Linked DNA regions of Homo sapiens. The protein of the gene in region 6 purifies or fractionates together with the protein of the main gene of each other region. This does not show direct contact. Each region holds a gene or a part of one and is shown on either strand. Other genes may lie near its edges. The genes, in order: SLC12A4, PPP6C, BPTF, TEX2, SON, MARCHF1 and PNP.

Region 1 (3,500 bases), on a different chromosome or scaffold from region 6:
TGCCTTTGTTAGTCTGACTCCTCCAGACCAGAGGAGGGACTGTCTCATCCAGCCTTTTGGCCCTAAGGCCCCGCACAGTGCCTGCCACCAGGTGAGTGTCCACGGCTCCCTGCCCTGAATCTGTGCTTCTATCAAAGTCTAACACCCTTAAAAGACTCAGAGAGTCATGACCAGGCCCCAGGGTGACAAGCACAGGGGGACAAGAGTCATCTCATGTTGCTGGTTGTATCTGCTGCTGAGACAATGTCTCTGGTGAAAATCTGGGAACAGGGATCAAGAAATTCTTTCAAAGAGTCAATCTTGGCTGGGCGTGGTGGCTCATGCCTGTAAGCCCAGCATTTTGGGAGGCTGGGGTGAGTGGATTGCTTGAGCTCAGGAGTTCCAGACCAGTCTGGGCAACATGGCGAGACCCCGTCTCTACTAAAAAAAGGAAATGATAAAAATATACATTTTTAAAAAAAGGCCGGGTGCAGTGGCCCACATCTGTAATCCCAGCATTTTGGGAGGCTGAGATGGGTGGACTGCCTGAGCTCAGGAGTTCGTGACCAGCCTGGGCAACACGATGAAACCCCGTCTCTACTAAAATACAAAATTAGCTAGGCGTGGCGGTGTGCACCTGTAGTCCCAGCTACTCAGGAGGCTGAGGCAGGAGAATCGTTTGAACCTGGGAGGCAGAGGGTGCAGTGAGCCGAGATCATGCCACTTCACTCTAGCCTGGCGACAGAGTGAGACTCCGTCTCAAAAAAAAAAAAATGTCAGCTGGGCACAGTGGCTCACGCCTGTAATCCCAGCACTTTGGGAGGCTGAGGCAGGCAGATGACTTGAGGTCAGGAGTTTGAGACCAGCCTAGCCAACATGGTGAAACCCCATCTCTACTAAAAATACAAAAATTAGCTGAGCATGGTGGTGCATGTCTGTAATCCCAGCTACTCGGGCGGCTGAGGCAGGAGAATCGCTTGAACCTGGGAGGTGGAGATTGCAGTGAGCTGAGATCGTGCCACTGCACTCCAGCCTGGGCGACACACTCCGTCTCAAAATAAATAAATAAATAAATAAACGAAAAGTCAATCTTTTTCATGCCGTAATCCACCTCCAGGACCCTCTCCTAAGGGAACTGCTGGGGCATGAACAAAGATTCATGTTCAAGGATGTTCATGACAACAATGTATACAATGGTGAAAAAGTGGAACCCACAGGCAGGAGAATAATCACATTAATTAGGTTATGGTGTACCATGGAGAATCCTGTTTTCAAAAAACCATTTTCGGCAGGGTGCAGTGGCTCACACCCGTAATCCCAGCACTTTGAGAGGCAGAGGTGGGTGGATCAGTTAAGGTCAAGAGTTCGAAACCATCCTGGCCAACATAGTGAAACCTCGTCTCTACTAAAAATACAAAAATGTGGTGGTCGCCTGTAATCCCAGCTACTCAGGAGGCTGAGGCATGAGAATCACTTAGAATTGCTTAAACCTGGGAAATGGAGGTTGCAGTGAGCTGAGATCATGCCACTGCACTCCAGCCTGGGTGACAGAGAGAGACTCTGTCTCAAAAAAAACCCAAAAAACCAAAATCAAAAAACTGTTTTCAACACTTGGGAAACATACACACACACATACACACGTAAACATATACACATAAATGCATATGTATATATACACACATATACTTTTGGGAAATACACACAAACACACACACACATATATATATATATATATACAATTTATGTAAATAGAGTGTGCGTGTGCAATACTTCATAAGACCCTAAGACTTATATATACCAAAAGGCGAACAGTAGTGATTTCAGGATGGTGGGATTATGGGTGCTTTTAATTTTCCATTCTATACCTTTCTGCACTTTTTTATTATTTATTTATTTATTTTGGAGATGGAGTCTTGCTCTGTCACCCAAGCTGGAGTGCAGTGGCATGATCTTGGCTCACTACTGCAACCTCTGCCTCCTGGGTTCAAGCTATTCTCTGCCTCAGCCTCCCAAGTAGCTGGAATTACAAGTGCCCACCACCATGCCTGGCTAATTTTTTTTTTTTTTTTTTGCGACGGAGTCTCGCTCTGTCGCCCAGGCTGGAGTGCAGTGGTGCAATCTCGGCTCACCGCAAGCTCTGCCTGCCAGGTTCACGCCATTCTCCTGCCTCAGCCTCCCGAGTAGCTGGGACTACAGGCGCCCGCCACCACGCCCGGCTAATTTTTTGTATTTCTAGTAGAGATGGGGTTTCACCGTGTTGGCCAGGATGGTCTCGATCTCCTGCCCTTGTGATCCACCCACCTCGGCCTCCCAAAGTGCTGGGATTACAGGCATGAGCCACCGCGCCTGGCCTTTTTTTGCACTTTCAAACCCTCTTACAGTAAACATACATTGCCCTTTTTTTTTCTTTTTTGGTATTGCTTTTATATTAACAAAAACCACAATGGCACTCTCCAACTCTGTCAAGCAGGAAAGCTCCTACGTGGGCACTGTCCTGGCATCAGGGATTGGGAGCCCACTACAGAACTGCTTGGGGCAGGGGTGTGCTATGGGGGTTCCCAGGTAGGTCAAGGCAGATACTGGGTCCTTTTCTCTTCCACCAGGCCTTGGGTGGCGCTCACTGACCTGGAACCACACCGTTGGTGGCGATGGCACTCATGGAGATGGCCGTCAGCAGGGTCTGTGGGAAGGAGGGCCTGGGTGAGCGGCTCAGCTGGGTGGGCTCTGTGGGGGCAGCCGTGGCCCATGCCCAGCCCAACCCTCCCACGCCAGGACACTCACACAACAGCAGCAGATAAGCACGATGAGGAGGGCCTGTAGCACACCTGCTGTGCCCACCATCCAGGTCAGCCGCAGGAAGAGGATAACCCCAAAGATATTCTGCAGGCAGGGCAGGTACACCCCCATGAGGGTGCCCATGCTGGGTGCCTATGCGAACACAAAGGGAGGGGGCGAGTAGAGCATCAGAGGGATGCACCATGGAGAGTCAGCCCTAGTCACTCAGCAGGCCCCCTCCCCCAGTGGGGCCCCAGGGAACACAGAGAGTAGGGGTGACAGCTAGGATGTCTCTATTGACTTTCATATAGGAAGACAGTTGAGTCTGGGAAGGTGTAAAACCTGATTCTTTTTAAAAACCCACATTGAACTTTGGAACCTTAACTCTCTCTCAAGGTACTGCCTCCTTCCCTTCCTCTCTTCTGTTAAACTTCTAGAAAGAGAGGTTTGTCTCAGATCTCCACCTTCTCACCCAGCAGGCCCTAAGTCACCCAAGCCAAAGTCCCAGAAGTCATCCCTGGCCCTCCCTCTCAACCCCCAACTCTAGTCCCGGTAGACACTAACTCCTACCCAGTCTGTCTCCCTGCTGCCCTGAGATCAGCCTGCCTTGTCCCAGCCTTAGTCCCTTGAACCTGGGGCACCTGGGTGGTACCCTCCTGAGCCTGTCAACCTCTCCACACTCCAGCCCACTCTGCTGCTATAGTAGGTCTCTGAAAGCAAGTCTAATCTCATCACCCATGCTGAAA
Region 2 (2,865 bases), on a different chromosome or scaffold from region 6:
AGATAACTTTACGCTAACAATGTAAGCTGTTTAAAATTTCTAACACTTAACCTATCTGAGTTTTATTTAAGATTACTTTATTAAAAAATACAAGGAATCTGAAAAAAGATCAATACAATTATCTTAAAGTACAAAGTCATAAGCTGTAGCAGTTTTTAACTAAAATTTAAAAACACAACAAGGAGGGCAGCCCTTTAGACCAATTTATTTTATATCCATTTAAAATATCATCCAACAAAGGACAATGAAGTTTACATCTGGGACAGGTATACATAACTTGAGGCATTTGGAGTCCATCGTGCCCACTGAATAACAACTTTGCTGCTGAAATTTCTTAAAACTTACCAAACTAAAACAAAAGGCTGAATGATACAAAAGGAGGAGTATTTAGGTGTAATCTGTCAATTGGCTTTTAAAAAAAGGAAACACATCCTGTTTCCCAGACCAGTAAATAAGCAAGAGCTACATGCAGCAGTGTGAGTATTAAGACATTTCTCAAGTCTTCTCAAATGAGTCCAGGGTGGGGATGGGATGGGGGAAAATTGATAGAAAAACTTTGCTATAGACACCACAACAAACAATAAATTTAGATAATTTAAAATTTAAAAAAAAAAAGGCAAGAGGCAGCATTTCAGCAGCAAAGTGCTCAATAAAAAGTATATTGTAGAGGGTAATACAAGAAAATTGGGGTAAGAAGAGGGCAGAAAAATGGGTCAGCAGGATGGGCGAAGGCCTCAAAGGAAATATGGCGTTGTCGTTCTGGGAGGAATAACACGTTCTGAATCTGGAACTGCCCGGAATAACTTTGGTTCTCTTGTATTTACATCTTTGAAGACCATGATCGAAGCAATATTTCCACAACGATAGCAGTAATTAGGAGCAGACCATACTGTCACCAGCTTCTCATCAAACATAAATTTATAGCCTTCGTGCACTAGTTGATGTGCTCTGCAGATGAGTTTTAAGTTGTTGATATGAACAAACTGCAATTTAGAAAGGCACTGTAAGTACTTAGCACTTAAAAAACAATCGGCCTACATAATCATTTAAATAAAATACCAAATCCTATTACTACTAAAGGCATCAAGATTATAGAACGCACTCTATAATTATCTCCAACAATTTAATAAGTTTAGGCAAACAGCAATTTTGGCCTGAGTCAAGTGCACAACTATGGAAACTGTACAGCTACATAAACAGTTAGAAATTTCTGGAAGAAAAAGCATTCAATAGGTACTATGAAACAAAATTTTGTGTTTTCTGATTTAATAATAAAGATATTGCTATCAGTATCTACCATTTACTGAAGGTTTAGTATATGTAGATGTTGCAATAATTCTGAAAGAGATTATTCTTTTGCAACTTAAGGAAACAAAAGCTCAGACTAGATAAATAACTTATCTAAATTAAGATACACTGATGCAGGATCAGAATCTAGTTTTTTGACTTCATTATGATGCTGGAGCACTTCCCAATATAAGGGGTGTGTGTGTGTGTGTGTGTGTGTTTTAATTGAAAACAGTTGAAAGTTCAAAGTGTGTGTGTGTGTTTTAACTGAAAACAGTTGAAAGTTCAAAGTACTGCCTATCTTGAAGATGGCGGAGTAGCATCGCAAAGAGATTAGTATTGAGTCTCTGGGCCGACTTTGGTTGCAGTCTCTGCAGCAGCAGTGATCACTTAGTGAAGAGTGCTTAGGGTAGTTGGCCAGGATCCTGAATATCAAAATCTTCAGCGGCAGCTCCCACCAGGGCTTATCTCAGAAAACTGCCGATCGCCTGGGCCTGGAGCTCGGCAAGGCAGTGATTGAGAAATTCAGCAACTAGGAGACCTGTGTGGAAATTGGCAAAAGTGTACGTGGAAAGGATGTCTACATCATTCAGAGTGGTTGTGGCAAAATCAATGACAATTTAATGGTGCCTTTGATCATGACTAATACCTGCAAGACTGCTTCAGCGAGCCAGCTTACTGCAGTCATCCCATGCTTCCCTTATGCCCAGCAGGATAATAAAGAGTCAGGTGACAATCTCAGCCAAGCTTGTTGCAAACATGCTATCTGTGGCAGGCGCAGATCATATTATCACCATGGACCTACATGCTTCTCAAATTCAGGGCTTTTTTGATAACCCAGTGGACTATCTGTATGCAGAGCCAGGTGTCCTGAAGTGGATAAGGGAGAATATCTCTGAGCAGAAGAACTGCACTATTGTTTCATCTGATGCTGGTGGAGCTAAGAGAGTGACCTCCATTGCAGACAGGCTGAATGTGGACTTTGCCTTGATTCACAAAGAAGGCCAATGAAGTCGACCGCATGGTGCTTGTGGGAGATGTGAAGGATCTGGTGGCCATCCTTGCGGATGACATGGTTGACACTTGTGGCACAATCTGCCATGCAGCTGACAAACTTCTCTCAGCTGGAGTCACCAAAGTTTATGCTATCTTGACTCACAGAATCTTCTCTGGTCCAGCTATTTCTCACATCAACAACGCATGCTTTAAAGCAGTAGTAGTCACCAATAACATACCCCAGGAGGACAAGATGAAGCACCATTCCAAAATACAGGTGATCAACATCTCTATGAGCCTTGCAGAAGCCATCAGGAAAATTCACAATGAAGAATCCGTTTCTTACCTATTCAGTCATGTCCCTTTATAATACAGTAACTTCTGAGGCTTTTTAAGAATAAAATCCACCCCACCCCTTGTTTTCCCTTGGTATTTGATGACGAATTCAGCAGAAGACCCAGCTTGCTCCAGTGTAGCTTTCTATATCCCACATCAGGTATATCTGAGCTTATCCGAAATGAAGAAAGAAGGATTGAGATTAACTGCTGGGACTTCCTATCTGCATTGTCTCATTCTGGCTTC
Region 3 (3,500 bases), on a different chromosome or scaffold from region 6:
CCCTAACACGGTTTCCTCAACACCTGGGCAGAAAAGCTTAACTTCAGCAACGTCCACTTCAAATATACAGTCTTCAGCCTCACAACCCCCTCGCCCCCAACAAGGACAAGTGAAGCTCACCATGGCTCAACTTACTCAGTTAACACAGGGCCACGTAAGTAACATAAGCTTTATTTTAACTTTAGAGGTGATCTTATTTATTCTTGCGGTAAGTTTAAAAACATGAACTTATTTTGATACGTTTTTAAATGTGCTGATTTGAAGAAATGGTTGCTTCCTGGAGTCAAGCAGAAATACCTCTTAGACAGGATATAATAAACCCCAACTACTAGAGTAATCTTTAGACAGTGAGCTAAAACAGTGAGACAGATAACCCTTTTAAACACCAAAATTTTATTAGTTGGCTAATCTCCATGAGACAAATAAAATTTGAGTACATTAAGCTGCTTCCTTGCAAGACTCGATATTGTTAGCAAGTCTTCTAATATTGATTAATAAATTGAATGCAGCTCCCATCAAAATCCCAAGAGGTTTTGTTTTTAGTGAAACTTCACAAGCTGATACTGAAAGTTTATATGGAGGTACAAAGTATTAAGAATATCTGTACCTTTGAAGAACAGGATTATTTGCCCTATATATGATAACTTGATATCAAAACTTAGTATAGGCTGGGCATGGTGGCTTGCGCCTGTAATCCCAGCACTTTGGGAGGCCAGGGCGGGTGGATTGCTTGAGGTCAGGAGTCTGAGACCAGCCTGACCAACATGGTGAAATTCCATCTCTGCTAAAAGTACAAACAAATTAGCTGGGCGTGGTGGCATGCGCTTGTAATCACAGCTACTCAGGAGGCTGAGGAAGGAGAATTGCTTGAACCTGGGAGGCGGAGGTTGTAGTGAGCTGAGATTGCACCACTGCATTCCAGCCTGGGTGACAAAGCAAGACTTCATCTAAAAAAAACCAAAAAACTTAGTATATAATACTTCACTAATTAATATAGTGAGGTACAGACATAAGGAGAGGCAGATAGACCAACAGAACAGTAGAGAGTGCAGAACATGAACCCCATGTATGTGGACACTTGTTATATGACAAAGGTGACATTGCAGATCATTGAGGAAGAGATGACTTTTCAGTAAATGGTGCCAGGACAATTGAATATACATGGGAAACTGTGAAATTGGACCATTATTACCTCACTCTACATAAACTCAATTCCAGGAGGATGAAAGTCCTAACTGTGAAAGGTAAAACTATAATACCTTTAGAAGATAGAAGAATATCTTCATAGCTTTCCTAAACAGATAGAAAATGCTAACCATAAATGAAAAGATTTATAAATTCAACTACTTTAAAAATAAGAGTAAGAACCTCTGTTCATCAAACTCACTACAGAGAGAGTGAAGAAAATGAGAAAAGAACCAACCAAGGACTATTACATATCCAGAATATATAAAGAATTACTACAAATCAAGAAAGAAAAAAATCCAGATAGATCAATAGGAAAAAAGACAAACAGGCAAGGTGCGGTGGCTCACACCTGTAATCCCAGCACTTTGGGGGGCCAAGGTTTTGGGAGGCCAAGCCAGGTGGATCACTTGAGGTCAGGAGTTTCAGACCAGCCTGGCCAACATGGGGAAACCCCGTTTCTACTAAAAATACAAAAATTAGTCAGGCGTGGTGGTGTACGCCTGTAATCCCAGCTGCTTGGGAGGCTGAGGCAGGAGAATTGCTTGAACCCAAGAAGCAGAGGTTGCAGCGAGCCAAGATATACCACTGCACTCCAACCTAGGCAACAGACTCCGTCTCAAAAAAAAGAAAAACAAAAAAAAAAGGACAAACCAACATTATGAGGAAAGAAGAAATCTAAATGTCCCAAATTCCAAAAAACTGCTGAACTTTATTAATAATGAGAGAAGTACATATTAAAACCATATGCTTAAGAGATTGGTACAAATTTAAATGTCCAACAAAACCAAGAGTTAGCAAAGACATAGAGCAGAAAGAATTCTCATGCACAGCTGGTGGGCCTATCAGTCGGTTCAGCCATTTTGGAAACTTCCTGGACATGGTCTGGTAAAGTCAAAGCTGTGTATGCCCAAGGTCCCAGTATACCTTCTAGGTATATCCCTAGAGAAGTTGTTGGCCATGTGAGCACCAGAATACATGGCATAAATATTGGTAGCAGCATTGTTCATAAGAATCAAAAACTAAGAACAACTCAGGTGTCTATCAAAATCAGTTAGCTAAGTAAATTGTAGTATATTCCTACAGCAATAAAAATGAATAGACTTCAGCCACACAGAACTATGCAGATGATTCTCACAAATATATAATGGTAAGCTAAAGAAGCAAGTAGCTGCCAAAAAAAATACATGTTATAATTTCATTTGTATAAGATTCAGAAATAGGCAAAACTAAGCTATTTTGTGTAGGGATACAGGGCTGCTGCATTGCCTGCCTGGAGGGGGCACTATTCCCATTGTATTCTTTGTGAATATTGCTCCTGAGTTTGTGAACCTCAGTGGCCTTATATATACCTAAGATACATACCGAAGTAGTAATGAAATACAGTGTTATCATCAAAGTGAGGATAGTGCTTACCTCTAGGGGAGAGGGAGGGAATTGAAATCCGGGTGAGTCATATGGGGACTTCTAGGACACTGGCAATGGTGACCACAGTGGCGGTTTTATAGATGTTTACTTTATAATTTTTAAATTATACTTGGTGTTTTGTGCATTTTGTGCATAAAAAATGTATTTTAGAAAAGCAAGAGTAAATAAGTTTTGAGGGATTCACATGTATATGGAGCTTACTTAGTACATGGACTTTGCGCCATCAGTTTTGGTCATTGGGAGTTTAGGGGATGGTTTTTACTTTTGCTTTCCAGTTCTCCAGCATGTTCCTGGTATTCAGGGTTTCTAGTTGAATTACAGTTCTGGACAGAAGAGAGAGCGCCTAGAGAATTTTAAATTTCTGGACCCCTTTTTGGTAACTGCTCAGACCTTAGTGATCCTCCTTACTTGGTGTTTGCATTACATATCTAAAACCCTAAGCTTTTTACAGTTTAGCACACACACACCCCATAGGTAATTTGGCACGTATTGAAAGACAAAATTCAGGAGATCTAGGTTCCTTCTTTTATCTCACCTTTAAGTTGGCCAGGGTACTTGACCTTTCTAACCTGAGTTTCTTAGTTGGGAATCAGAAGAATATTTTCTCTGCCTACCCCATAAAGTCACAAGTCCATTGTGAGAATCAAATGAGGCAGTATCTATGAAGATGCTTTTGAAATTGTAAAATATGAATATAAGATTATTTAAAATCAGAATTTTGTGGGGACTTTAGTTATTCAATACCTTTATTTTATAGATTGGGAAACTTGGATCTGGAGGAACAGTGTTGCTTGTGGACAGATAACTGGCTGACCATTGGGGGAGCTTGAACTGGAACTCTGGATTGTTGATGTTTTTCCTACTAAGCAACATAAATATTCTTACTT
Region 4 (3,500 bases), on a different chromosome or scaffold from region 6:
CTTGAGTGGACATGTTCAGAGTGGTCAGGTTCAGAGATGTTCAGAGAATTGCTGCACTAATGAGCTCCTGTGCTCCTGCTGGAGCCAGAGTTAGATGCCGATGTCTGTCTCTCTGCCAAGTGCAGTTTTGAGTAATTCACGAGGCTATTGGGAAATCTTTTACTGCCATGAAAAGGTGACTGGACTGACTGGGTCTGTATCCTTGTGCTCTGCTTACCAGCTCTGTGACCTTAAGGGTAAATTACTTCTCTTTCTGTGTACCTCAGTTTCTTTGTAAAGTGGGAAAATATTCCCATTTCAACAATGCTAAGACAGTGTAATTTATGTAATGTTAACATTCCTGGGGAAAAAAAGCATCTTGTAATGTATGGGGTCTTAGACTTGTAGTCAGCAGTGGCTTCCTTTTTTGGCACATAAAATAACAGTGTGTCTTATAGTCAATGGTCTTAGATGAACTAGGGTAGTATATTATTTATAGGTAGTTGTAAGAATTAAATGAGATCACTTATGTCCCTGGTTCTAGTGAGCACCCAATAACAGGTCATGCTGTCCACTGACAGGATGAATGGTTAACTGGGAAAAGCTGGGAAGCATCTCGTAAGATTTGCCACTCAACGCCTAGGCAATAATCCATGGTTTGTGGCTGGAGGAACATTTTCCAATTTGCCTAGAGCACTATCCTTTGGCTGACTCTTGTCCCTGTGAGAAACATTAACTTCAGGAGCTAACGAGCCATGGACAGACAGCTCCCTTTGTCTTCCTATTCATTAAGGTCTTTGTCAACTTTAAATCCCAAGTTTAAAGTAAATATTGTAATAAGAAGACTGGAAGCCCATGCTGTTGTGAATATTCTTACATGTGAGTTTTAAAGCAACTCATAGGTTATACAAGATTTTGTGTTGCTCCTTTCCAAACTCTTTATAATGCGTAATTACACTGCGTGAAATGTCCATGAAGCACCATTAATGAGAGGGATGCTAGGAGGTCATGAAAGTTCAGAAGCCCTTGACTGGCATTGGTGGGGTGGAGAGAACACTAGACTTGGAGTCAGAAGGCTACAGTCCTGACAGTTTCACCTGTCATCCCTGCTTCACCATTAGAAACATATTTCCCAATGGCTGCGTGGATCACCCAAAATTGCACTGGGCAGCAAGGCAGGATACCAGCTGCGCGTCACTTCACTAATTTGGACTTTTAAAAGTCTCTCTTCCAGGACAGGGCGCGGTGGCTCATGCCTGTAATCCCAGCACTTTGGGAGGCGGATCACCTGAGGTCAGGAGTTCAAGACCAGCCTGACCAACATGGTGAAAACCTGGCTCTATTAAAAATACAAAAATTAGCCAGGCGTGGTGGCACATGCCTGTAGTCCCAGCTACTTGGGACTGAATCAGGAGAATCGCTTGAACCTGGGAGGTAGAGGTTGCAGTGAGCCGAGATCGCACCACTGCACTCCAGCCTGGGTGACAGAGTGAGACTCTGTTTAAAAAAAAAAAAAAAGTCTCTCTTCCAAAATGAAGAGTTGATTTCTTAGTGCCATCCCCTACTGCTAGCAGTCTCATAGATTATATGAGTTTATGATTCTAAGAATCTGAGAAATTAAACAATTGAAAGAAAATGATTGTATTCAGGACTTTTGAAGTCTCAGGTGTTTGTGATAGTGCTTTGAAAAACAAAACAATACGCAGGTGATAACAATGTGAGTAACTATCATTTACGGGGAATCGTGTGCCAGGCACTGTTCCTACCTTTAAACTTTATACCACCCTATGAATAGTAGATACTATTATCAATCTTATTTTAAGATGAGAAAACTGAGGCTCAGAAAGGTTAAATAACTTTCCAAGATTACACAGCAAGGTCAAGGACTGATAGCTGGGCCTAGAATACTGGCTTATGTTGCTCCCCAGTGGATGCCTGAAACCATGGATAGTGCTGAACCGTATATACACCACGTTTTTTTCCTATGCATGTATACCTATAATAAAGTTTAATTTATAAATTAGACACGGTAAGAGATTAACAATATAACTAATAAAAATAGAACAGTTGGGCCAGGTGCGGTGGCTCACACCTGTAATCCCAGCATTTTGGGAGGCTGAGGTGGGCAGATTGCCTGAGCTCAGGAGTTCCAGACCAGCCTGGGCAACACAGTGAAACCCCATCTCTACCAAAATACAAAAAATTAGCCAGGTGTGGTGGTGTGCACCTGTAGTTCCAGCTACTCAGGAGGCTGAGGCAGGAGAATCGCTTGAGCCCAGGAGGCGGAGGTTGCAGTGAGCCAAGATTGCACCATTGCATTCCAGCCTGGGCGACAGAGCGAGACTCCATCTCAAAAAAAAAAAAAGAACGGTTATAACAACCACATATTGTTCACAATTTTCGGAGATAGAAGATTCATTCTTAACATAGATCTTAGCAACCTCAGTACAAGATTTTTTCCTTTCCTAAGTTGTGAAGTTTGACTTTTTCACTTAAAGGAAGCACTTTACAGCTTCACTTTGGCGTATCCAAATTGCCAGCGTCATTAATCTTGTGCTTTGGGGCTGTTATTAAGTAAAATAAGCGTTACTTGAACACAAGAACTGTAATATGGTGACAGTTGATCTGATAACTGAGACAGCTAAAGGTGACTAATGAGTAGGTAGCGCCTACGGCGTGGATCTGCTGGACAAAGGGAGGATTCACATCCTGGGCAGGATGGGATTGGACAGTGAGAAATTTCATGACACTACCCAGAATGGCATGCAGTTTAAAACTTGCGAATTGTTTATTTCTGCAATTTTCCATTTGATATTTTCAGAACTTGGTTGGCTATGGGTGACGGAAACTGCAGATAAGTGGGGACTACTTGTATTGGGAGAACTTTGTTAAACTTAAAGAATTAACTCTTATTGCAGAAGACTTAAGTCCTTGAAAGGAAAGGCTTTTCTTTGGTGAACAAAAGCCATGTGCCAGGTCACTGTGAGCATAAATGGGACTATTGAGAGAAGAATCTAACCTTTCTGTGTGGAAGCTGGGAGAATGGGAAATGTGGGTGGGCTTTGAAACAACCAGGTAACCTTTGTCTGCTGGATTTGCCTGGAATATTGGTTCTAAGGGCTTTTCCCTAAGAAGATTATTGCAACAAACACATTAAGTGCCTCCCCAGCTTATTCTAACAGTTGAAAGCAGCACTGGGCAAGAGGAGCTGGCTTCAGTCATAAGCTTATTTAGGATCTGAGATTAAAACCTACCCGTTGGATTGCTCCTGCAAATAACCTTTCAGAATCCCAATATGCATTTTATAAGTTTCATTTCTCTTGCTGTTCAAAGCTGACATAAGCTGGCTTGTTTTCTTATTCAATTTTCAGTCCTTTCTTGGACCTCATGCTGTCTTTTGGGCTGTATTCTTATAGATGGTTATATTTATTATTTTAGGCTCAAAATAGAGAATTTAAAAATCTTTTTACTGAAAGGATTGACTGAACAGTGATCGTCATTCAGCAAGTATTTGAGCATCT
Region 5 (3,500 bases), on a different chromosome or scaffold from region 6:
TAAAAGGAAAATACAGTCAATGCTAACAGTTCCAAGATGCCTTAACACAAGGCAACAGGAAGAAGTAACATTATTGTCAGCAGCTGGTCTACTATACTCTAACCCAACTTAACTACTGAGCTTGGAAGAAAAAAGCAAACAGGGTTTATGAAATCTAGACTAAACCAGTATTGTAATAGGAAATAATGAAGATGTGCTAAAATATCTAACAAAAAATAAACTAAACTCTAGAAAAAAGGATGGTTCCTTGTCAAGAGAAAATAAAATGGAAATCCTGTTTTCTAAACATGAAATCCAGTTGAATTTGGAGGTGTAATAATAAAATTAGATATATACACATTTCCATATTTAGCAACTAGCATAACAAAAGGTGCCTTTTAAAAGTTCAAACTGGTGTCTCTATCCATAGTTATATAAAAATAAGCTGCTCTGTGAACCCCAAAAGGGGTTAATGTTTTTTCTGACAAATACCTGTATATATACAAGAAGTGCCTTCAGTTCAGTATCACTGGGTTCAAAAGGATATATTAAAGGTAATGTTAAAGGAGACGTTAATAAACATTCCAAAAAAGAACTTGTTACCTTTTCGGTCTGTCTTAAAATCAACTAGGATGGGTTCCTTATTGCCTTCTTTGTTTTTTCCTAATCCTTCTCCTTCTCTCCAGCCCATTTTTCTCATCAAAACGGCTCCCATTCCTCCAGTTACCGGGGCTGCTCTTAAGAACTGATCCTATCCAAAGAAAGAAAGGTAAAATGTCCCCATTTTACAGTTAGAACTTGGTGACAGATTCATTGTTTACTTTCTAAAAAGAGGAATCTTACTTTACTTCTAGATCTGTTATAGCAATTAAATGTAAATTCCTCTATACTTTATACATACTGTAGTGTGTATGTTCTGATTATTTGCACATTAACGTAATAGTATTTTGGAAGTCAAATAAGACAAGTAAATGGCAGTTTTGAAACAGTAGCCCTCGTGCCCCCCTCAAAAAAAAAAAATTAGAACACTCCTGTTTTCGTCCACTATTTAGGTTCACTGGTATCTCTTCTTAGCTTGCAAAATAAAAAGAAGGCAATGTTAAAACAATCAATGATATTAATTGTCCCAGGTGTACCTAGTTTATGAATAAAGCCCAGAAATCACTTAGAAATAGTTTAGACACTGAAGAAGCATACTGTTGTCATCCAAAGTTTTCTTCCCCATTCTACTATAAAGCAAGTATAAATATTTTACTTAGAAAATCCCTAAAGCAGAAAAAAAAAAAAAAACTCTTGAAATTTACACAGTAACAAATAGAAAACAATCACATAAAATATCCTGTAAGTATGCCAAAATGAATTTGAATTCTTTTAAAACCTAGCTTGATGTTAAAAGACTTTTAAAAAACTCCTTAAATGTTTACATACCTAGGCCTCGGTAGCAGCAGTGTTGTGAATAGTACGGCTGGCACTGACCGGGGCAAGAAGACAGCTACAAGGATTTGGCCCTGAAACAAGTTTCCATACAGAGGGGTGAAAGTTCACAGGTTATTCTGTGAACAGTCATCTCTCTTGTATCCAACCCACTGAACCATAATTTCCATCAAAGCAGCAAACCACTTAATGTCCTAAGATGCACAAGTATATATACATTAGCATGGTCAACAGTTATTTTTACAGGTTAAGAAATATTCAATGCCTCTTATTAAAGGGCATCCATGTACATATAGCAAACAGTATTAAGTTGTACTGTTGATCTTTATGGTCATTTTTTAAAAATTTGAAACATATCTCCAAATCATGCTTTATTTTCCCCTTGTTACTAAATTTTAGGTTTTTATGTTCTCTTACCAAATATATATATATATATATATATAAATATATAATATAGCAAAAGTCATTAACTTATCAACAGAGAGAGTAAAAAAACTTCAGTAGCTCAGGAAATAGTATGCACATCTCCTATATTGATAAGTTAATACTGAATGTAAAAAAGAAATGTTTGTATGCAGTAGTAAAACTGTATCTATCATCTTTTGTTTCCCAGCTTTGTAATTAAATGCTGGGGAGAAAACATGCCAATGACGTGTGACTAGACATTAAGTTCATCAAGGTGCTCTGATGGAAGGAGGCAGCTGTGGAGGTAAAAACATACCCCTGGTTCAGTTCCTTATTTGGTGCAGGCCATGCAGTGTAGATGTATAAAGAGAAAGCTGATGCTTGGATATTAACTGCCTTGATGCTACACACCTAGAATGTCTTTTACTTACTTCCAGGTTCATCCGTCCCTCTTTTCCAGGGAACACGCCTAAAAAAAAGGGCAACTGTGCAGAGTACAATATAAATCCCCAAATAACCCAGGTTTCCAATTTTGTTTCCATTCCCTAGTATCATCATCTGTTTCTTTACCCCAGTGTGAAAAAGCTGATTAATTTAATGAGACCACAATAACAAACTGTATTTATCAGGTCACATCCAAATCATTCCATTCTAGAAATAAAATTTCTTTTAAACGAACTACTTTAAATGTTTTACTGATTAATGAGACTACTGATAAAACTTTGCTTTTTTTGTAATCTAAAAATACACTGCAACAAACTAAAAAGAACACGGAGGATGTTGGTATTCCATGTGTTTTTTAACACATAAGGCAGATGCTGGACTATACTAAAGAAGAGCCAAAATGATCGTTTGACAGGTTTTCTAAACACAACTAAACATTTAATGAGTAGACAATATTTGTGATATTTAACATGGATCATACATCCTAAATTTTCAGCTGCCTAATGACTTCTACATGTTGTGGCCCATTTTTAATTTTCAAAAGTTTCTTTTTTAGTTGATACTAGCATCAAATATTCTTCAGTAATTCTATACAAATGAATCTTTTCCTTTAAGTGCTACTTTTATCTATAATTTAAAATTTGGTCTGAACATATCTTTATCTCATAATTTATCAAAATAATTTGCTTCCCAAAGTATATCTTACATAAAATATAAAGTTGAAGCCTTTTTTCAAGGTGCTACTAAACATTTTAAAGTTATTAAAGTCTGTTAACTGCCTACAAGACTGCAAATACCAGAAGAAATTATTTTAGGGGAAAACCAATTGAGTCAGTAAAAGATTCACTTTTTAAAAGTTATTTAAGTTATTAACACATTTATAAGTATACAAACATTATGGATCAGCACATCATTAGATAAAGACCAAAATTTTGTAATGGAAGCACATTCAGAAGTTTCTACCTAGCAGTGTACATGACTCTGTATTATGTGCCTATTTTAACACCCATAAGCTTTATTTCTAACTTCCTGAAATACTGGCTGAGTACTTAGCTTCAAGACTAAATAGTATTAAAGAATTAAAACTAAAGAAATAGATGTACATTTATAGTTCTTCCAAAGATGAAAGACATTTTTTCAAATATTATATAAATCACTTTCATAGTAACTATAATATAGAAGTCCAAGATTAATCCAATCTTTAAAATATTTTGCTATATACATTTTCACCCTTTATT
Region 6 (3,500 bases):
TTTCTTTAAAACAATTTATCAGCATAAGTTCTCTCTTACACTGTTTTGAGGGAAATTTTTCAAATAAATGTTCACATTAGATGTGTTGCCACAGAATAGAAATTAGCATGAAACAGAGGATTATTTTCGCATCATTTTTTCCTCTACATATAATTTATTACAATTATACACTCAGAAAAGTATTTTTAAAATCCACAAGAAAACTAATTAGATTTAACAGACGTCAACATTTTTTTAAGTTTTGCTTTAATATTCATCTTTTAATCCAATAATTATTAATTTAAATTGTTATTATGATAATAATTCAGTCTTATTATTACTAAAAGTATTTGGGAAATTTAAAAAGTGGGACAAAAAGCTAACGATAGTCCTATGACAACTATTAACAGTTGAAAATACTTCCTATTTGTAAAATAAACATTTCCTTTATTTTTGACATTACTGGGTAATGTATGTTTCAAAAAATTAAAGCCTTCTGCCTCATTTTTAACAATTTTTGAAAATTGACAACTATGGCTTATCCTCATAACAAAAGCTATAGAAATAGCATCTATTATCACTTCTTAAGACTCATCTTCTCTACCATGAATGTCATAAGGAACAAACCAAAAAGTATCAGACTTTTCCTTCTATATTATACTTGTCACTTAATATCTTAATAATGCGTCAAATTGATTCCCCCATCTCTTTAATTCTCTGCTATTGTTAATGGCACAGAATCTTTCTTTCATGTAGTAGTTACTTAATAAATACTTGTTTATCCATTTATTTAGTAAAGGTTTCTAAAATAAGACATACTCATGAGGTTAAAAGATTTCATAAAAGATTAAGTTTAAACATAAGCTATAAATAAACCAAGTTATCTTATTAAAAAGGAAAGAGAGCTGGCAAGAACTTATTGTATATATTATGCTAAATATTAAAGGGTCATTTCACAGGGTGCCTGGGACCTGACTTTGGGTTCCATGAAAACAAAATTGCTAAGAAATGTTAAAGGAAATATAGCTCTAAGTGGAAAATAATTTGTCTCTAATTGATCGAATTTCAAATTTGGGAGAATTTAGCAGAACCAAAATCCAAACTCATGTGAGTATAGAGGCAATTTAACTTCATTAAAACCTAAATACAAAAGCTGATTCCAGAATGAATAATTAAATGTGGCTATGTGCTATGCTTCAGTAACATCTAATAGACCTTTGTGTGTTACACTATTAAAATAAATCAAGTAAAATTTTAATTGAAATGTTGTACTTTTAAAAGAAAATATCTACCCATAATTCTACCACTCTAAAAATTAATAGATAACTAGCAAAAATATATAAATTTTATAACTATGTAAAAACTACTTAGTTATATGGAACTTAAAAGCCTTGTAGGTAGTCCTTAAGGTATCATCACCATGAGCTGGAACAAATACATTGAGTAATAAATAAATAAATAGTTCATTCTCCTTTCTTTCAACTCTATTTCTTTAGAAGTTCTCTAACTTTAAATGATAACTCCTACAACTTTTATTTGATTCAAATGTTCATAACTCTTAATATTTGCTAGGCTGCATATTCGATACAACATTCTTCCCAGATTCATACATTTCTTTTTTGCAAATAGATGGTCTGTATTTGTTAGCACCTTTTTACTGCTCCCCTACTACATGCACATACACATGCACACACACATGTACAATTAATTCCTTACTATGGCAAATATTTTGTGACAGTCCCTTATGTTTAGTACCTCTCTTCAGCCTACATCACACTCCCTCTGACTGTGAGTCTTTCAAACTTCCCCCAACAGTAGGACCTTGAGCACACTTCATTTCTCCCTCTGTTAGAAAATTTTTATCTTTTTTCTCCACCTCATTAACCCTTCCTTCAGATGTCAGGTAAAATGTCACCTCCTCAAGGAGGCTTCCCCAGACCTCCCTGGCTGAGTCAAACTCCCCTCTAATAGGCTTCCCCATTACTGTGCATCTGGCCTTCATTATACTCACTTTTGCGTATGTGCACTGGCTTGTGTGATTATTTAATTAATTTCACAGAAATAAAAAGCTCCAAAGAGGCAGGAATCATGCCACATCTTTCACTCATCATTACATTACCAGGACCTAGCTGAGTGTTGAGCATAGAGTAGACTGCCAATAACTACATATTAAAGTATAGTAAAAAAGAAGGAAGAGATGCAAATTAATCATTATGTCAACAGATGACCTCACAGTTACTAGAAAAATTATTTAAATGGTCTCACTTGGTGATCTGAAAGATGACAGATTTGTAAAGAAAGTATCTCTGAAAATACATGTTTTATCTTCTTTCTTTTTTTCTCTCATTGTAATGGATGTAGCTTATGATTTAGTCCTGCTTTTCTTTCTCTTATTCATTTTTCTCTAGAGAAGGAAAGTCATAAATCTTAGGCCAGGCTCTCTTCAAAAGCAGAGTCTGAACTAAAAAATTATGTGCAAATAATACAAGGTGATCCCGGAGAGTAGGAGTGAGGCACCGGGTAAAGTGAACCAGGGAGAGAGTAAAGGCTAATACAGGTGCATGCAGTTGGGTCACTTCCATGGCCGGTTGAGGCTCCTTCTCACTTGGACCTTATGAGGAGCTGCAGAGTGCGTCTCGGAACTATCCACCCATTCCCACTGACTGCGAGGCTCCATGGTGGTGTTAGCTCCTCCTCACTTCCAGGCTGCATGGACCACGGTCAGAAGCAGGGGGAAAGATAAGACATGCTAGTAAAGTCACAGAAAAGAAAGTGAAAGATACTCAGCGCAAGCTTGAGATGGGAAATAGCACAACTGAGTCAAAGGCTGCCTACAATGATTGCCCGAGCCAGAGCCAGAAACAGATGTGAGATTGACAGGACATCCGGCAGGGTCCAAAAAGCATGTGATATACTTCATGAGAATCAGATCATTGCTCACCACAGTCAGCCCCAATGAGCCTCAATGTCAGTACCTAATTTATCACTCTCACCAAGCTTCCATTTATCTCCTGATGTGCCTCAGGACACTGAATTGAAGGCAGGCACAAGAATCTATTCCAGGCATTCTCCGACTTCCAATCATTGTGTCCCAAATAGTCAGTGATTTCTGGAATATGTTATCTGGAATATGTTACCTGCAACATACAAGTCACTCAAAAATAACATTACATGTAATAGTTCAATCCATCCGTCACCAGGCAGACTTAACAAAAATTCTAGGTCAATCCATAAAAGCACAGTTAATTTAAATCATATATCTCTAACAATCTACTTCAGGTATAACCTGAATTAACTATATTTCCGTGAATTGGTCTAGAAATACGTTCTGAGTTTTATCCATATACCAATAAGAAAAGAGATAAACATAGTACTAGCTTGTTAACACTATTGTATGTATTTCACAAGAAATCAGTCTGTATCAGTTGCTTTTCAGAGCCAACAGTTGGAAAAATAGGACAGTTGTTTCTAAGAAGAGGGAGACTCCAGACTTCACACATTTTTCACTCCATAAATGTAGC
Region 7 (2,592 bases), on a different chromosome or scaffold from region 6:
GTCTGACTGATAAATTAACTCAGGCCCAGATCTTTGACTACGGTGAAATCCCCAACTTTCCCCGAAGTACAGGTACTGGCAAGGGAAAGTGGGGAATGGGACTGAGGGATGTTCTTGGAATTCTGTGGAACACAACCAAGGAGGCCAATGTTTCTACTCCTTGACCTAGCATTTCACTGAAGACAAATGTTGTAAGAGAGGAGAAAAGCCCACCATGAGTCAGAGTGACTTTAGGAGATGCCTCTAGCAGACATCCCATAAGAGACAGGACATGTGTGTGTCAGTGGACTGAGGCTAAGACTCAGAAGAGGGCCAGGTGACAGGGGCCAAGTAAAGGGCAAGGGTTGTTTATTTGGTTTACGTAATTTCTCAAATAACTAACTTCTGTTGGTTTATTTATTAATTTTTAAGATTTCTATCTTCTTTTCCCTGGAGAGTTAAGAATTTTTTTTTAAGACCTGTCAGCAGGAAAAGACCTTTAATAGCTATTTTTTTAAACTCTTTAACACAAGACTGGAAGAGCAGAGGGAGAAGGTGAGGGAAATATTAACAGAGGGTGTGTGAAGGGCATACTTCTCTAAGGGAGATAGTAGTGACGCTGGCTCCACTGGCCACTCCTACCCCCAGTGAGAAGGGCACTGCATTAAATGATAAGTGGGTTAGTTTTTTTAAGCTTATCAACATGTTTATTTTTTATACTCCACTTGGGTTTCCTTTGTCAACTTTATTACTGTTTTTGTTTTGTTTTTTTGCATAAGCTCCTCTATCTTTGAGAATTTCTCAGCTCTTCCTCTTGGTTCTAGTCCCTCTCCCATTCCCTAAGGGATAGGTTGGCCGTCTATTAGAAGTGACTGCCAGATAAAAGAAATGGTAATAATGGCTGTTATGTCTGTGGGGAGTTATCTTTGCACTCCCACGCACCCCTCCGTGGGCATGTGTTCCCATAGGACTGTTCCGTGGGTCATAAGGAAAGAGACACTTGCATGCGTTCAAATTCTTTCCCCCTTGTTCAGTAGCCTCTTCTTTAAGAAGCCAGAGTAAGTATACTATGAGCTTGCTTGCTGGACTGAGGAGGCAGGTAATTAAGTTAGGGCAATAGATAAGAATACATGTTTTGAGAACTTTGAAAAATTTGAAGAGGTCTATAATTACTGCATTCACTGTACTCACTTTATTTTGAAACAGAGTCTCGCTCTGTCACCCAGGCTCGAGTGTAGTGTTGTGATCTCGGCTCACTGCAACCTCCACCTCCCAAGTTCAAGAGATTCTCCCACCTCAGCCTCCCGAGTAGCTGGGATTACAGGCATGTGCCACCACACCTGGCTAATTTTTGTATTTTTAGTAGAGATGAGGTTTCACCATGTTGGCCAGGGTGGTCTTGAACTCCTGGCCTGTTGATCCGCCTGTCTTGGGCTCCCGAAGTGCTGGGACTACAGGTGTGAGACACCGCACCTGGCCTATTTTTAATTTTAATTTTTATAGATTTACAGGGGTACAATGCAGTTTTGTTATATGGATATACTGCGTGGTGGTGACGTCTGTGCTTTAGTGTAACCATCACCTGAGCAGTGAACATTGTACTTATTAGGTAATTTCTCATCCCTCATCCCCATCCCACTTTCTCACCTTTCCGAGTCCCCAGTGTCTATTATTTCACTCTGTAGGTCCATATGTACACATTTGGTTCCCACTTATAAGTGAGAACATGTAGTATTTAATCTTCCATTTCTGAGTATCTACTTTTTTTGCTCACTTTTTACTCTCTGGCAGTATGGCTTGTATTATCTTGAAATTTCTTTAAAAAGCCCTTCCTTCTTTGTGTGTTCATGCTGAACATGCTGAACGCACCCCATATCTCTAATCTTGGGTTGTATTTGTATAATTATTAGTAATGCCTGGCTCTCTCACCAGACTTAAACTTTCTGAAAGCAGAGATAATAATGAGTCTTTTACTTAATTACAACCTAACATTTTGAGCAGAGCGAGTAACTCACAGTAGGTGCTTAATGGATATGTGTTGCATGAAAATATAATCCCATTCATTTCTCTTTCTGTTTTGTATACAGTGCCAGGTCATGCTGGCCGACTGGTGTTTGGGTTCCTGAATGGCAGGGCCTGTGTGATGATGCAGGGCAGGTTCCACATGTATGAAGGGTACCCACTCTGGAAGGTAAGTCAGAGGGATAGGTCCGGTTGGATCTGGAAGAGGCAGGAGAGAACTATCTAGCCTCTTTCACTACCTAGCTATCTGGGCTAGGTGGATTTTTGGTCCTCTCCTTCCTTTTCTTTCACGATGTATGTCATGCATTTCAGTGTAGCTGAATTAATGAAATTTTGTAAATTTTTTTCGGATTGTTTGCTTCGAAGGTGACATTCCCAGTGAGGGTTTTCCACCTTCTGGGTGTGGACACCCTGGTAGTCACCAATGCAGCAGGAGGGCTGAACCCCAAGTTTGAGGTTGGAGATATCATGCTGATCCGTGACCATATCAACCTACCTGGTTTCAGTGGTCAGAACCCTCTCAGAGGGCCCAATGATGAAAGGTATGTATGTTACTCCGTTTTTTTTAGGTGGGTAGGATTTAAAGACTTC

The links.
Region 1: the proteins of MARCHF1 (region 6) and SLC12A4 purify together in Homo sapiens (affinity purification with mass spectrometry; one large-scale study listed by BioGRID and IntAct). This does not show direct contact.
Region 2: the proteins of MARCHF1 (region 6) and PPP6C purify together in Homo sapiens (affinity purification with mass spectrometry, with the first as the bait; one large-scale study listed by BioGRID). This does not show direct contact.
Region 3: the proteins of MARCHF1 (region 6) and BPTF purify together in Homo sapiens (affinity purification with mass spectrometry, with the first as the bait; one large-scale study listed by BioGRID). This does not show direct contact.
Region 4: the proteins of MARCHF1 (region 6) and TEX2 purify together in Homo sapiens (affinity purification with mass spectrometry; one large-scale study listed by BioGRID and IntAct). This does not show direct contact.
Region 5: the proteins of MARCHF1 (region 6) and SON purify together in Homo sapiens (affinity purification with mass spectrometry, with the first as the bait; one large-scale study listed by BioGRID). This does not show direct contact.
Region 7: the proteins of MARCHF1 (region 6) and PNP purify together in Homo sapiens (affinity purification with mass spectrometry, with the first as the bait; one large-scale study listed by BioGRID). This does not show direct contact.

Annotation. Positions count from the first base shown.
Region 1 is NC_000016.10:67,955,138-67,958,637, forward strand, and holds part of SLC12A4 (solute carrier family 12 member 4), read right to left. Parts: intron 2,908-3,500; coding exon 2,761-2,907; intron 2,660-2,760; coding exon 2,605-2,659; intron 1-2,604. UniProt on the Homo sapiens protein: Mediates electroneutral potassium-chloride cotransport when activated by cell swelling. May contribute to cell volume homeostasis in single cells. May be involved in the regulation of basolateral Cl(-) exit in NaCl absorbing epithelia.
Region 2 is NC_000009.12:125,148,939-125,151,803, forward strand, and holds part of PPP6C (serine/threonine-protein phosphatase 6 catalytic subunit), read right to left. Parts: intron 984-2,865; coding exon 735-983; 3' UTR 1-734.
Region 3 is NC_000017.11:67,940,503-67,944,002, forward strand, and holds part of BPTF (nucleosome-remodeling factor subunit BPTF), read left to right. Parts: coding exon 1-154; intron 155-3,500. UniProt on the Homo sapiens protein: Regulatory subunit of the ATP-dependent NURF-1 and NURF-5 ISWI chromatin remodeling complexes, which form ordered nucleosome arrays on chromatin and facilitate access to DNA during DNA-templated processes such as DNA replication, transcription, and repair.
Region 4 is NC_000017.11:64,256,761-64,260,260, reverse strand, and holds part of TEX2 (testis-expressed protein 2), read left to right. Parts: intron 1-3,500. UniProt on the Homo sapiens protein: During endoplasmic reticulum (ER) stress or when cellular ceramide levels increase, may induce contacts between the ER and medial-Golgi complex to facilitate non-vesicular transport of ceramides from the ER to the Golgi complex where they are converted to complex sphingolipids, preventing toxic ceramide accumulation.
Region 5 is NC_000021.9:33,570,538-33,574,037, reverse strand, and holds part of SON (protein SON), read right to left. Parts: intron 1,488-3,500; exon of another isoform or gene 1,408-1,487; intron 731-1,407; coding exon 583-730; intron 1-582. UniProt on the Homo sapiens protein: RNA-binding protein that acts as a mRNA splicing cofactor by promoting efficient splicing of transcripts that possess weak splice sites.
Region 6 is NC_000004.12:164,374,020-164,377,519, forward strand, and holds part of MARCHF1 (E3 ubiquitin-protein ligase MARCHF1), read right to left. Parts: intron 1-3,500. UniProt on the Homo sapiens protein: E3 ubiquitin-protein ligase that mediates ubiquitination of TFRC, CD86, FAS and MHC class II proteins, such as HLA-DR alpha and beta, and promotes their subsequent endocytosis and sorting to lysosomes via multivesicular bodies.
Region 7 is NC_000014.9:20,472,406-20,474,997, forward strand, and holds part of PNP (purine nucleoside phosphorylase), read left to right. Parts: coding exon 1-72; intron 73-2,066; coding exon 2,067-2,170; intron 2,171-2,367; coding exon 2,368-2,543; intron 2,544-2,592. UniProt on the Homo sapiens protein: Catalyzes the phosphorolytic breakdown of the N-glycosidic bond in the beta-(deoxy)ribonucleoside molecules, with the formation of the corresponding free purine bases and pentose-1-phosphate.